Homo sapiens: one gene and its partner. The protein of the gene in region 1 purifies or fractionates together with the protein of each later gene. This does not show direct contact. Each region holds a gene or a part of one and is shown in the gene's direction. Other genes may lie near its edges.

Region 1 (4,250 bases):
TAAGAATGCCTAACCTGGGAATGCAGCCGAGTATTTCTCAGCCTTACTTTATCCAGCCCATTTTCAAGATGGAGTCACTCTGATTCCAATGCCACTGACAATGATAAGCACTTGCCAGCAAAGAGGTGAACGCATGGATTTAAGGCACTTGAAATATCTCAGTGTAAAAGCACCCTGTGCATGTAGCAGGACGAGCCGCAGACAAAACCTCTCAGACACCGAGTTGCAGAAGGAAGGGCTTTATTCAGCTGGGAGCATTGGCCAGCTACTGTCTCAAAATCTGAGCTCCCGGAGTGCACAATTTCTGTCCCTTTTAAGGGCTCACAACACTAAAGATTTCACATGAAAGGGTCGTGATTGATTTGAGCAAGCAAGGGGTATGTGACAGGGGCTGCATGCACCGGTGGTCAGGGAGGAACAGAACAGGGCAGGGAGTTTCACAATGTTCTTCTATACAATCTAAGGAATCTATGAATAACATCGGCTTCTAAATCATAAGTTGATTTTTAACTACTGGGTTTAGGCCAGGCGGGCCTAGGCCTGGTTTCGGGCCTGGCGCGGGGTTGCCTGTCTTTGGTTTTACTTCCTTGTTGTTTTTACTGAATATAAAACAATGTGAGAGGGTCTCTCTCTTCTCTCATGCATACATACTCCATGTTTGAACACCGCAGCCATTGTCCTGTAACATAATAGCATTTGTCTCATTAGCTTTTTGATGTTGATATCAGATTTCTAGAGGAATCTGTAGGTTAAAGATATAAATAAAAGTGTTGCTAATGGGCTGAGAACGGTGGTTCACGCCTGTAATCCTAGCACTTCGGTAGACCATTGCAGGCAGATCACTTGAGGCCAGAAGTTCGAGACCAGCCTGGCCAAAATGAGGAAACCCCGTCTCTACTAAAAATACAAAAATTAGCAGGGTATGGTGGCACACGCCTGTAATCCCAGCTACTCGGATGGTTGAGGCACGAGAATCGCTTGAACCCGGGAGGCATAGGCTGCAGTGAGCCAAGATCACACCACTGCACCCCAGCCTGAGTGACAGAGAGAACTATGTCTTAAAAAAAAGACAAAAAAAAAAAAAAAAGGAAGAAGCCGAGCATCACAAATTCTGAAATAAGAAGTCTCCAAACACGCGGGCAATCAGTTGCACACAGTACCCCCAGAAATGTGCGTATGGCCTCTTCTAAGATGGGAGACCCTCCTCCGCATCTGGACCTGGAGTCGCCATTTCCTAGCGCCCCTCGCAGTGGAGCTTGCCCCTTTCTTCGGAAAGTCGGAAGAAAGCCACCTTAAGCGCTGCCCATGTCTGGGAACTACATTACCCAGAATCCGCCCTGCGAAATGGTAACGTGGCTGAGCCAATGAAGCTTCAGAGAAGCCGTGCCATTGCCGGGGCACGTAAAGTCAAGCCAGGACTTCCGGCGTCCTAGCCGTGGCAGCCATTTTGGCCTGTCAGGTCCATCCGGCGATGCTGGGTCTGGACGAGCTCGGGAGGAGTGGTTGTGGCCATTGCACACAGGCGGATCTGAGGTTCGGCGACGCCGCTGGTCGCGACCCGGGACAGGACAACGACAGGAACACCGCCGAGCCCGCGTTCCCCCCCCGCCCAGAGTCATGGCGGCAGCAGCCGCTCTGAGGGCGCCTGCTCAGGTGAGCGCTGCGACCTCCGGGCCTTACCCACCCTACCCACCCAGACCCTGAGGCCCCTGATCGTGAGGGCCGCCTCCTCGCGTCCCTGCAGCCCAGGCCTCTGTCAGGGACGGAGAGGCGCCGGCGGGTGGGATCCCTGTTTCCGACACCCAGTTGATGCGGTCGGCAGAGCGAGACTGGCGGAGGGCAAAGGCCTGCAGGCGCGACTGAGGCAGGAGGATGCGGAACACGGGGACATCGTGTGTCTACTGGGAAAGAAGTGTGATACGGAGTTATTTCTTTTTTTTTTTTTTTTTGAGACGGAGTCTCACTCTGTCGCCCAGGCTGGAGTGCAGTGGCGCGATCTCGGCTCACTGCAAGCTCCACCTCCCCGGTTCAAGCGATTCTCCTGCCTCAGCCTCCCGAGTAGCTGGGATTACAGGCATGCGCCACCACGGGGTTTCACCATGTTGGCTAGGCTGGCCTCGAACTCCTGACCTTAGGTGATCCGCCCACCTCGGCCTCCCAAAGTGCTGGGAATACAGGCGTGAGCCACCGCGCCTGGCCGAGGCGGAGTTGTTTCTTCAGTACCAGGCTGAGGGTTGAACTTTGACTGTGAGGACGCTAAAAGCCATGGACAGTTTTGAACAAAGGAGGAAATCTGTGTTAGAGTTGCGATTCCCAAAAGATGTTCGAAGGAAGAACAGAGTTGAAGGCAGTGATGAGGACATTGAGAGGTTGAATCATTGAGAGGTGACATTGAGCACTGGGCCACAAGATTAGAGACTCAGTCTGAAGTCATCTGGCTGCAGGGCCAAAAAAAGCTTACAGAGAAGCCTGAGTCTATCAAATCCGAGCACAGACACATTTGTGAAAGCCCTGCCTTTTGGCACACCTCATGGCTACAGAAGCACTTACAGAATCCACAGTAGGAAGTAGGGGATGCTCTAGTCCTTCACTGGTCCTCATCCTATCCCACATGTCTAGATCTTGGCATCTTTTTTTTTTTTCGGCGACGGGTTCTCACTCAACACCCAGGCTGGGTTGCGGTGACGCGATCACGGCGCAGCACGGCCTCGACCTCTCCGGGCTCAGGAGAGCCTCTCATCTCAGTCTCCCGAGTAACTGGCTTTTTGTATTTTTAGTAGAGGTGGGGTTTCACGGCCGGGCGCGGTGGCTCACGCCTGTAATCCTAGCACTTTGGGAGGCCGAGGCGGGCGGATCACGAGGTCAGGAGTTTGAGACCATCCTGGCTAACACGGTGAAATCCCCCCTCTACTAAAAATACAAAAAATTAGCCAGGCCTGGTGGCACACACCTGTAGTCCCAACTACTTGGGAGGCTGAGGCAGGAGAATCGCTTGAACCCGGGAGGCAGAGGTTGCAGTGAGCCGAGATCGCGCCACTGCACTCCAGCCTGGGCGACAGAGAAAGACTCCGTCTGAAAAAAAAAAAAAAAAGAGAGAGAGAGAGATGGGGTTTCGCCATGTTGCCCAGGCTAGTCTCGAACCCTTGGGCTCAAGCAGTCCTCTTGCTTCGGCTTCCCAAAGTGCTGGGATGCCAAGCAGGAACTACCGCACCTCCTAGGACACTTAAGTGCCATTTCTCCGGTCCTTCAATCTGGGGATCTTGGAAAAACCTCAAACCCCAAACCTACATCAGTGACATAGGTTATGGGGAGTTGTTGCTATGTCTGTCAACTAATGTAACACATGTGGAGGGTTCACCCAGGAACTGATACTGGGGTGTGCAAATACTTACTTAGAAGTGAAACTAGAGGGGTGAGGTGATGTTACCAATTTCTTAATAGGCGCTGTCTGGTTACTGAGTGGGCAACAGACTGTGGGGTTGAGGGAGGAGGAAGATCAAACTGGAAGCTACTGCCCTAGTCGAGGTGAGGATTAATGGACTAGAGTTGTGGCTTAGGCAATGTGGCTAGATCTGGATTTGTGTTTTTTAGAGGGGCAAGTCAATTTTTTTTTTCCCAAGATGGAGTCTGGACCTGTTGCCCAGGCTGGAGTGCAATAGTGGAATCTTGGCTCACTGCAACCTCCGCCTCCTGAGTTCAAGCGATTCTCCTGCCTCAGCCTCCGAAGTAGCTGGGATTACAGGCGCGCGCCTCCACACCCAGCTAATTTTTGTATTTTTAGTAGAGACTAGGTTTCGCCATATTATCCAGGCTGCCTCGAACTCCTGACCTCGTGATCCACCCGCCTTGGCCTCCCAAAGTGCTGGGATTACAGGCTTGAGCCACCGTGCCCAGCCTGGCAACTCAATTTTTAAATGTGAACAGTGAGAGCTTGAGAGGATTCAGGAAACACCCCTGGGTTTTTTATCTTAGCAGCTGTAGCAATGGGAGCTGCATCAACTGAGATGAGCAAGTTGATAGCAGGTGTAATATTCACTGAGGCTATCAGGAGGTTTGTTTTGGCCATTCTGCGTGGAAAAAAATACAAATTGCTTTTGCTCTGCTCTCCCCCACAACAATCAACACAGAGTACTTCTGTGACTAGATAATGTGTGGATGGTTTTCCTCATACACCAAGTAGTTCTGCAGTGGACATCAGATCCCACAGGGTGAAGTCTCAGTCCCACGGGACTGTCCGCCAACCCCTTTCG
Region 2 (3,100 bases), on another chromosome or scaffold:
TAAAAATTAGCCAGGCATGGTAGTAGGCACTTGTAGTCCCAGGAGGCTGAGGCTGGAGGATCACTTGAGCCCAAGAGTTTAAGGCTGCAGTGAGCTATGATTATGCCATCCTGCCTGGATGACAGAATGAGACCCCATCTCTTTTTTTTTTTTCCGAGACAGCGTCTCACTCTGTCGCCCAGGCTGGAGTGCAGTGGTGTGATCTCGGCTCACTGCAACCTCCGACTCCCGGGTTCAAGTGATTCTCCTGCCTCAGTTTCCCAAGTAGCTGGGATTACAGGCGCCTGCCACCACGCCCAGCTATTTTTTTGTATTTTTAGTAGAGACGGGGTTTCTCCATATTGGCCAGGCTGGTCTCGAACTCCTGACCTCATGATCTACCTGCCTCGGCCCCCCAAAGTGCTGGGATTACAGGCGTAAGCCACTGCTACCGGCCTTTTTTTTTTTTTTTTTTCTTTCAAGACAGAGTCTCACTCTGTCACTCAGGCTGGAGTCAATCTTGCGATCTTGGCTCACTGCAACCTCCGCCTCCTGAGTTCAAGCAATTCTCATGCCTTAGCCTCCCGAGTAGCTGGGACTTCAGGCATGCACCACCACACCCAGCTAATTTTTTGTATTTTTAGTAGAAGTGAGGTTTCACCATGTTGGCCGGGCTGGTCTCAAACACCTGACCTCAAGTGATCTTCCCACCCCAGCATCCCAAAGTGCTGGGATTACAGGCGTGAGCTACTGTGCCTGGCCGAGACCCCGTCTCCTAAGAAATAAAAAAGAAGAAGAAAGAAAAAATACTGATCTAATCTTACCCCACCTCATTGTACAGCTGGGAAGCTGAGGCACAGAGATGCCCAGGGACTTGCCCAGGCCACATAGTGAGTCAGATGCTGTGTAGACCCTGCTCTCAGGACCACCCATCTGAACCATAGACCACCGTGGGCCACACGGCCCAGTATGGCTGCTCAACAGGGACAGTGATAGGATTCAGCAAGTCCACGCCACAACCTTACCTGAGACCCAAGGCCCTGACTCCTGTCAGGACCAGGTTCACCTGGAACTCCACAGCCTGGGGTGGCACAGCCCAGCTAGAAGCCACCTCCTTCCATCAAGAGCTAGTCACAAGCCTGGGCCATAAAGTGAGACCCTCCCTCCGTCTCTGCAAAAAAATTAAAAATTAGCCAGGCGTGGTGGCGCGTACCTGTTGTCCCAGATAGTCAAGAGGATGAGGCAGGAGGAGTGCTTGAGGCCGGAAGGTGGAGGCTGCAGTGAGCTATGATTGTGCCACTGCGCTCCAGCCTGGGCGACAGAGTGAGACCCTGTTTCCAAAAAAAAAAGAGCCAGTTAAAAGGGTCAGGTCTGGCACTGAACACACGGATCTGGAGGCGATTTGGTTTACTCTCAGGTCAAAGGCAGAGAGGAGGCCAGTCGCGGTGGCTCACGCCTGTAATCCCAACACTTTGGGAGGCTGAGGCAGGGAGGCAGGTGGATCACCTGAGGTCAGGAGTTCAAGACCAGCCTGGCCAACATGGTGAAACCTTGTCTCTACTAAAATCCAAAAAAAAAAAAATTAGCCGGGGGTGGTGGTGGGCGCCTGTAATCCCAGCCGCTCAGGAGGCTGAGGCAGGAGAATTGCTTGAACCCAGGAAGCGGCGGTTGCAGTGAGCTGAGATCACACTACTGTACTTCAGCCTGGGGAACACAGCCAGGCTCTGTCTCAAAAAAAAACAAAACAAAACATGGCAGAGACACAGAAGGCCACATGAAAGCCTCAGGAGGATTTGGGACAGATGCCCAGAGGGTGGATACTGTCACCCACATCCACCACTCCCTCCAATGTGGCCATCTCTCATGGTGATTCAAGGATGGCCACAGCCCATGGACCAGTCTGAGACAGAGGGTGGGGCAGCCTCTGACTTCTTTTTCATGTGGAATCTCCCACAAAAATCCCTCTGACTCATAGCCTGGGCTCCTCCTGCCTCCAGGGTCTTCTCTTTCGCAGGGTCTCTATGCCTCACCACAGACCCCCAGTTTCTGACTTCTCCACCAGTTGAAGAGACATTTGCCCCATGGACCCAGCCTGCCCTTACTCTGTGTCATTAAGACCCTTCCGGTGGGCTGAGTGCAGTGGCTCACGCCTGTAATCCCAGCACTTTGGGAGGCTGAAGCAGGAGAATTCTTTGAGCCCAAGAGTTCAAGACCAGACTGGGCAACATACAGAGACCCCGTCTCTACAAAAAATTAGCCAGGCAGGGTGGTGTGCACCTGTAGGGAGGCTGAGGCAGGAGGATCACTTGAGCTTGGGAGGTGGAGGTTGCAGTGAGCCAAGACCACACCACTGCACTCCAGCATGGGTGACAGAGTGAGACCTTGTCTCAAAAAGACAATAAAAGCCCTTCTTTATTGGGCTGGGCGAGGTTTCCATGCAGTAATCCATCCAATCAGGACGTGCTGCTCAAAGTCTTACATCTTCACCTCAAGTTAATCCAGCAACCACAGAACACCTGCTGACCCCTCCTCCGTGCTGAACTAGGTGCTGGGTTCTTTTATGCATGCGGTGTTTTTTGAGTCTCACATCACACTGGTTTCCCCATTTGACTCAGAGAGGTTCATCAGTTTTCCCAGATTCACACAGTGATAATAGTAAGTGGCCACAGTGAAATTTGAACTTAGGACTTCTGATTCTAAACCAGAGTTTCTTTCACTGGGGCACTGCCTGTCTACTTGGACCTGTGAACTCTCCACTCAGGACCACCATACATTAGTGATAACCATAGCAATACAATTTTTTTGTATTTTGGTAGAGACAGGGTTTCAACCTTCACCATGTTGCCCAGGCTGGTCTCGAACTCCTGACCTCAGTCAATCCACCCACCTTGGTCTCCCAAAGTGCTGGGATTACCAGTGTGAGCCACTGCGCCTGGCCCCAGGTCCTCTTTATACCCTCCCTGGACAACCTAGCCTGCAGTTCCAGCCTCCCCAGAACTCCCAGAGCCTCTCCTGGGGTCCCACATCCCCTCACAGCCTTAAAGAGCCCAGGAAAGAATGTGGCCTCCGGAGCCACGCAGACTTGGCCTTGGAGAAAGTCCTTTAACAGCCCTGCCCCTTC

What was found. Proteins that work in one complex are often made in the same cells at the same time.
Region 2: the proteins of ZNF586 (region 1) and GTF2IRD1 purify together in Homo sapiens (affinity purification with mass spectrometry; one large-scale study listed by BioGRID and IntAct). This does not show direct contact.

What each region holds. Positions count from the first base shown.
Region 1 is NC_000019.10:57,768,226-57,772,475, forward strand, and holds the start of ZNF586 (zinc finger protein 586), read left to right. Parts: upstream 1-1,450; 5' UTR 1,451-1,617; coding exon 1,618-1,653; intron 1,654-4,250. UniProt on the Homo sapiens protein: May be involved in transcriptional regulation.
Region 2 is NC_000007.14:74,596,906-74,600,005, forward strand, and holds part of GTF2IRD1 (general transcription factor II-I repeat domain-containing protein 1), read left to right. Parts: intron 1-3,100. UniProt on the Homo sapiens protein: May be a transcription regulator involved in cell-cycle progression and skeletal muscle differentiation. May repress GTF2I transcriptional functions, by preventing its nuclear residency, or by inhibiting its transcriptional activation.